2 separate regions of the Homo sapiens genome follow, and region 2 is linked to region 1. Evidence: fine-mapped expression QTL. A gene starts in region 1. The other region holds a variant in brackets. All regions are shown on one strand. Distances are between the middles of the regions.

Region 1 (2,932 bases):
CAATCTTTTACTTAAACCTTTAATAAAGATTCAAATAAAATGTTAAGAAACTTTCTAAATGGTTCTGAAAGTAATGGTCCAGCCAGGGAAATAAGGTCTCTCGCCTCTGTCTTGGGGCTTTCAGAATAGACTGGATGACCTTAGAATTAAAGGCAGATTCATGTTTTTCTGAACAGTACCTCCTTGTATTGACAAGTGTTTCCCCAATAGTTTGTTTTACAGTAAATGCTTCAACTAAAGAATCCAATTATTAACCCATTCACACTGTTTCAGTTTGCAGATAACCATTTGCCCAGCACAAAAATCTTTATATTGTTCTCAGAAATTGATTCTTGACTCTACACAGCAAATCCTTCGTCTTTATTGTTTTGACCCATTACAAATGCTTTCCACTATGATGGACTTATATTCTCCTTTTCTCCTCTAGCACTTACTTTCTTTTTTCCCCAGGAGTCCAAGTCTTGGCAACCTTTGAAAAAATCCCATTTGAGAGACCTTTCAGGAGGCCAAATGCTAATTTTACCAGCAACAGCTTCACATCACAGTACTGGAATGCGGTCAGCCACCGGGCCCCTGCCATTATCTATGACTGCTATCTGCGGCTCACTGGAAGGAAGCCCAGGTGAGAAGCTGAGTCAATGGCTTTGAGAGTGTCACTGCATGGGAGATTAAGGCCCCAAAATCTTTAGTGCTTCCTTCAGCCGAGGATTAAAGGAGACAACTGAATCTTACCCATATATACAGATTGAACACACCTAATCTGAAAATCCAAAATCTGAAATTCTCCAAAATCCAAAACGTTTTGAGTGCTGACATGATGCCACAAGTGGAAAATTCCACATACCTTACCTCATGTGATGGGTCACAGTCAAAAGACATTCAAAACTGTTTCATACATAAAATTATTTAAAATATTATGTAAGATTACCTTCAGGCTCTGTGTATATGGCTAAGTGTGTATGAAACAGAAATGAATTTTGTGTTTAGACATGGGTCCCATCCCCAAGATAGCTCATTACATATATGCAAATATTCCAAAATCTGAAAACAATCAAAACCCAAAACACTTCTGGCCCAAGTATTTCACATAAAGGATACTCGACCTGTATAAGTTTTGAACAAAGCAGTCATAGTGAGAAGCCACAAAAGACATTAAAAATGTTCCAGCACAATAAAGGAAGGTAAATGTTAAAGAGGTTGATGAATTCAGCAAGTAATCATTCATGCGAAAAGAAAAGCAATTGAGACTCTGTCACTAGGGTTTTCTGAATAGGTAGATAATCTTAAATATACAATAATGATGACAACCTCACTTACTGAGAGTTTACTGTGGCACTCGTGGGGCTAAGGCTGATGCATGATGATCCCATTTTCATTGTCACAGCTACCCAAGGAAGATGTCCTCATCATCCCAATTTTACAAATGGGGAAATAGAAGCTAAGGAAAGAATCTGAATTAGTCTCAAAGGAAGTGACAGGAAGGATGTGGAGAAAGCCGAGTCTCAAAGTCAGTATTCGGAACCAGATTTACTGCCACCTAGAGATGAGTGAAGAAATTAGAGGGAACACAGTGTGCTGATGCTAAGGCAGCTGTCACCACCTAGCTGTGTGACACAGGACATACGCCTTTATCTGTCTCGCTTGAATAATATTATGTGTCAGAGGAGTCATTGTTATAATTGCCTAAGGCAATTCTCGTGATCAAGAATCAGAAGTATGAACAGTATTGCCTTCTGTGCTAGCCCCTTTATAAGGGAGGAAGTCTTCTTCAGCGTGTTTGTCATCTTTATTAGCAGTGCAAATGACTAAAACTTAGCCAATGTAGAGTTTATCTAAATTTTTAAAGACCTCATTTGGAGCTCATAACTCAGTTCTTGAGCAAGGTGAAAAGGAAACATTGTGATTATGGGGAAAATATTTGTATGGGGCTTATTAAATAAAGACAGGAAAAGAAGAAAACCCAAATATTGTAGGCAGAAATGCTAAAGGTTTTAAAATATATCAGGATTGGAAGAGGGCCTGCATAAAGAACAAAGTTCAGTTAGGAAAAAAGAGAAACACAGAAGGAAGAGACACAATAAAAATCTATATGTATCTTGTGAGAAGTCAAACAGTAATATTTGTGGGAAATGGGTTGGTTTGTTGTGTGGTATGTATTTTAGCAATAATCTTTATGGCAGAAAAAGCTGAAATCCTTCTAGACCCTTTCCTGCTCCAGGTGTGCTTGTGTATACTCTCCTATGCTTTTACATCCATATATGGACGTACATAGTTTGCTTTGCAGTAGGGGGGTATGTGTGTATATAAATCAATTGTACATATTTTACAACTTTTTCCACTAATTTTCCATGAAAATCTAAGTCATTCTGCCCGGTGTTGTCTTTTTTTTCTACTGCAAATAGGGCAATGAATATCAGTGTGCATGCCTCTTTGTAGAATGTGCCTGTGTCAGGAGAGGATGCTGAGGAGGGAGACTGCTGGATTGAAGAGTATGTGGAGTTTGTGACTAGTGCCAGGTGACCCTCCCTAAGGAAGAGACTGTCAATTGGCACTACCACAACAGTGTATGAAGGGTACAAAAGTCTTTTTTTTTTCTTTTTCTTTTTTCTTTTTTTTTTGAGATGGAGTCTTGCTTTGTCACCTAGGCTAGAGTGCAGTGGCGAGATCTCAGCGCACTGCAACCTCTGCCTCCTGGGTTCAAGCGATTCTCCTGCCTCAGCCTCTCGAGTAGCTGGGATTACAGGCGCCCGCCACTGTGCCTGGCTAATTTTTGTATTTTTAGCAGAGATGGGGTTTCACGATCTTGACCAGGCTGGTCTCGAACTCCTGACCTCAAGCAAGTCACCCGCCTCGGCCTCCCAAAGTGCTGGGATTACAGGCATGAGCCACCGCGCCCGGCCAAGGGGTACAAAACAGTATGTCTTACCCTCTT
Region 2 (2,932 bases), 71 kb before region 1:
TTCAAGCGATTTTCCTGCCTCAGCCTCCCGAGTAGCTGGGACTACAGGCATGCGCCACCAGTCCCAGCTGATTTTTGTATTTTTAGTAAGAGACGGGGTTTCACCACGTTGGCCAGGATGGTCTCAATCTCTTGACCTCGTGATCCGCCCACCTCAGCCTCCAAAAGTGCTGGGATTACAGGCGTGAGCCACTGCGCCTGGCCCTGTCTGCCCTTTTAAAGTAAGTCTTCCCAATAATATTGTTCTTACTTTACAAATGAGGAAATAGCAACTGGTATGGCCTGTCATTTGCCTAAGATCATAGCTAGTAAGTGGTAGAGCTAAAATTCAAACCCACATCTGCTTTATTTATGTGTCAGTACTCATTAAATTAGTCATCCCCTGAATCAGAATGGGGTTGGGCTTGGGGGGTCTCCAAATCTGCAAGTTTAATAAGTAAACTTCCCAGATGGTTCTTTCTGATTTGCGTTAAAGTATGAGAACCACTACTCCTTGCCCCAGTTCAACTCCTCAATACCTCTGGCCTGGATCATTGAAATAGACTCCAGATGTGTTTCTTGTCTCATTCTCAGCCTCTTCTGGTCATTATAATTTTATTGCTCAGAAATATCCAGTCCCTATAAAAATCTACCTCTTTATGCTGGCATTGGATTTCCATCTTCTGTTGTCATCTATTCTTCTAGCCTGGGATTCTTTGCTTTCCTCCCAGGAACTAATTTCTACAGCCATACTTTGCACTTAGAATACACATCGGACTTTCTCATCTCCCCTTGCTTTCCCAACATCACTACCCCAAATACCTTCTTGCATTCCCACATCTCCAATAATACTTCTTATTCAAAACCAGCTTCACAATACACAAATGATTTACTATTCATCACTAAAAGGAGCTAAAATTCCTTCCTATAGTCACCTTACTATTTTAATATTATATGATATTGTTATACATAATATGCTATATATAATTATATAAGTATAGCTAGGTATATATAGTTATAGTTTTATATTTTTTTAATATATACATCAAATTTTCCTTTTTACTATCATGGTACATGGAAATTAGGATGCTTTGAGATCTAACCCTTTCATGCCAGGGTAATACAATAAGTTTATTAATCATTGGTATGCTATTCTATTATCTGTGCATGCATTTGCACTATATTTTTAAACATCATTTAAAAAGCCATTTGTTTCAACTTTTAACACTGGAAAGCAAGAACTCAGAGAAAAAAAAAGATCAAGTTTTAAAAACTTTCAGTTATTGATTTGAAAAGATATCTCAACATTTCACCTCTTCTAATTTCACCTCTTTCTGACTGGAGGCAGGCCCTCAGAAAATAGGCAGGAATTTAGACTTGGAATTCTTCTGTCTTTCCCTTAGCTCCACACCTTTACAATAGCTTAGAGTGAGATACACAGAAATCAAAAGGAAATCAAA[A/G]TTCACTTTAGATCGATAAACAAAATAAACACAGATATTTGCCCTATATACAAAACAGGTCAATAATAAATTGCATCAGCATATAAATTCTAAAATAAAGGGTCAAATTAAGAACTATATCGCAGAGTGTAGACCATAAAACAGCAGACTTAATAATATGAAAAAATTAAATTCTTGTATTTTTAGTCTTATGTACTGTAGCTACTACTCACAGTTTAACACTATTAAGAAGTAATTTTTGCAGATCTGTGAGTACCTTCTCTTAAAGACAAATGCCTAAAACTTTTGCTGATTTTTAAATAGAATTGCATATTACCAGAGAAAAATAAGTATACTATTTGAAGTTTATTGTTCTTCTAACATGGAACAAGTTCCTATGGAGACAATTTTGGTAGGGAAATTATTAGCTTTAATTCATCATTTGTTCTTCATAAAGAACTAATAACTTTATTAGTTATTTCATAATTCATAATATTTCATAATATTTCATAATAACTAATAACTAACATACAGAACTAACTGCATATTTCCAAATCATGTATTTACATTTACTCACATATTTCCTAAGAGACTGCCAATTTATTGGCACAGGTTACGATCAGTAACTTCCATTAGGAAATAAGGATTTCCAGTTTACTATATTATATTGATTTGCACATAATTAACCTTCATATTAACTTTTTTAGGAAATGTAACTTTCCACATGGTTCAAGAAATAATTACTTGATATGTGGCAGTGACTAAGCTCCTGGAGTCTCACTGTATGAAGCAACTAATGCTGTGCCTTTTCTTCTGACAGATACAGTTAATAAATACTGTGTCTAATCATTGACATTAACAAATTCTCTTAATCCACATATCTGCAAAAGAACAATGTGTTTTTATATCTAGGCCACTATCATCTTTTGGTTGCAAACAGTAATTTGTGCAATGATGTTGTAGCAGTTTTTCAGTGTTATTCCATGAATCAATAGTCTTCTTGGTGGACTTAGTTTATGGTGCTGAATCAATCTCCTTTTAAGCAAGGCCTTGTTAAAGGTCTTCACACATTTAAACTATTTTGTTTCCACTTCATTTCCTTGGTTGAATAACACATTGAGATACGGTTGTAAGAACTAGGAAACAGAAATTACCAACTTTATTTCCTTGGTTGAATAACACATTGAGATACAGTTGTAAGAACTGGGAAATAGAAATTTCCAACTTTATTTCTAAACTCTGCATGGATAAACCTGTATAAGTCTCTTAACCCATAGGAGTGGCAGAAGAAATGACCGTATCTTGTGAGAAGAAATTAAGATATTTTTCATGCCATAGTAGTACAATAAGTTTATTAATCGTTGGTATGCTATTCTATTATCTGTGCATGCATTTACACTACATTTTTCAACATCATTAAGTAGCCATTTGTTTCAACTTTTAACATCAGGAAGTAAGAACCCAAAGGGAAAATACTTTTTAAAACTTTGAGTTATTCATTTGAAAGGATATCTC

The links. PIP is the estimated chance that this variant, and not a neighbour inherited with it, causes the effect. A credible set is the group of variants that fine-mapping cannot tell apart.
Region 2: its variant is the best candidate, but not a certain one, in a credible set for the expression of FAR2-AS1 in whole blood (TOPMed, PIP 0.78).

Annotation. Positions count from the first base shown.
Region 1 is chr12:29,316,391-29,319,322 of GRCh38, forward strand. It overlaps FAR2-AS1 (FAR2 antisense RNA 1), which reads right to left and starts at 1,458. Exons shown (of 7, transcript NR_103860.1): 1 at 1,318-1,458. It overlaps FAR2 (fatty acyl-CoA reductase 2), which reads left to right. Exons shown (of 12, transcript NM_001271783.2): 9 at 451-622.
Region 2 is chr12:29,245,077-29,248,008 of GRCh38, forward strand. All of the region lies in intron 1 of FAR2 (fatty acyl-CoA reductase 2), which reads left to right. Among named protein-coding and RNA genes, the nearest start is that of FAR2-AS1, 71 kb to the right of the region's middle. The variant A/G (reference allele first, on the strand shown) is at 1,439.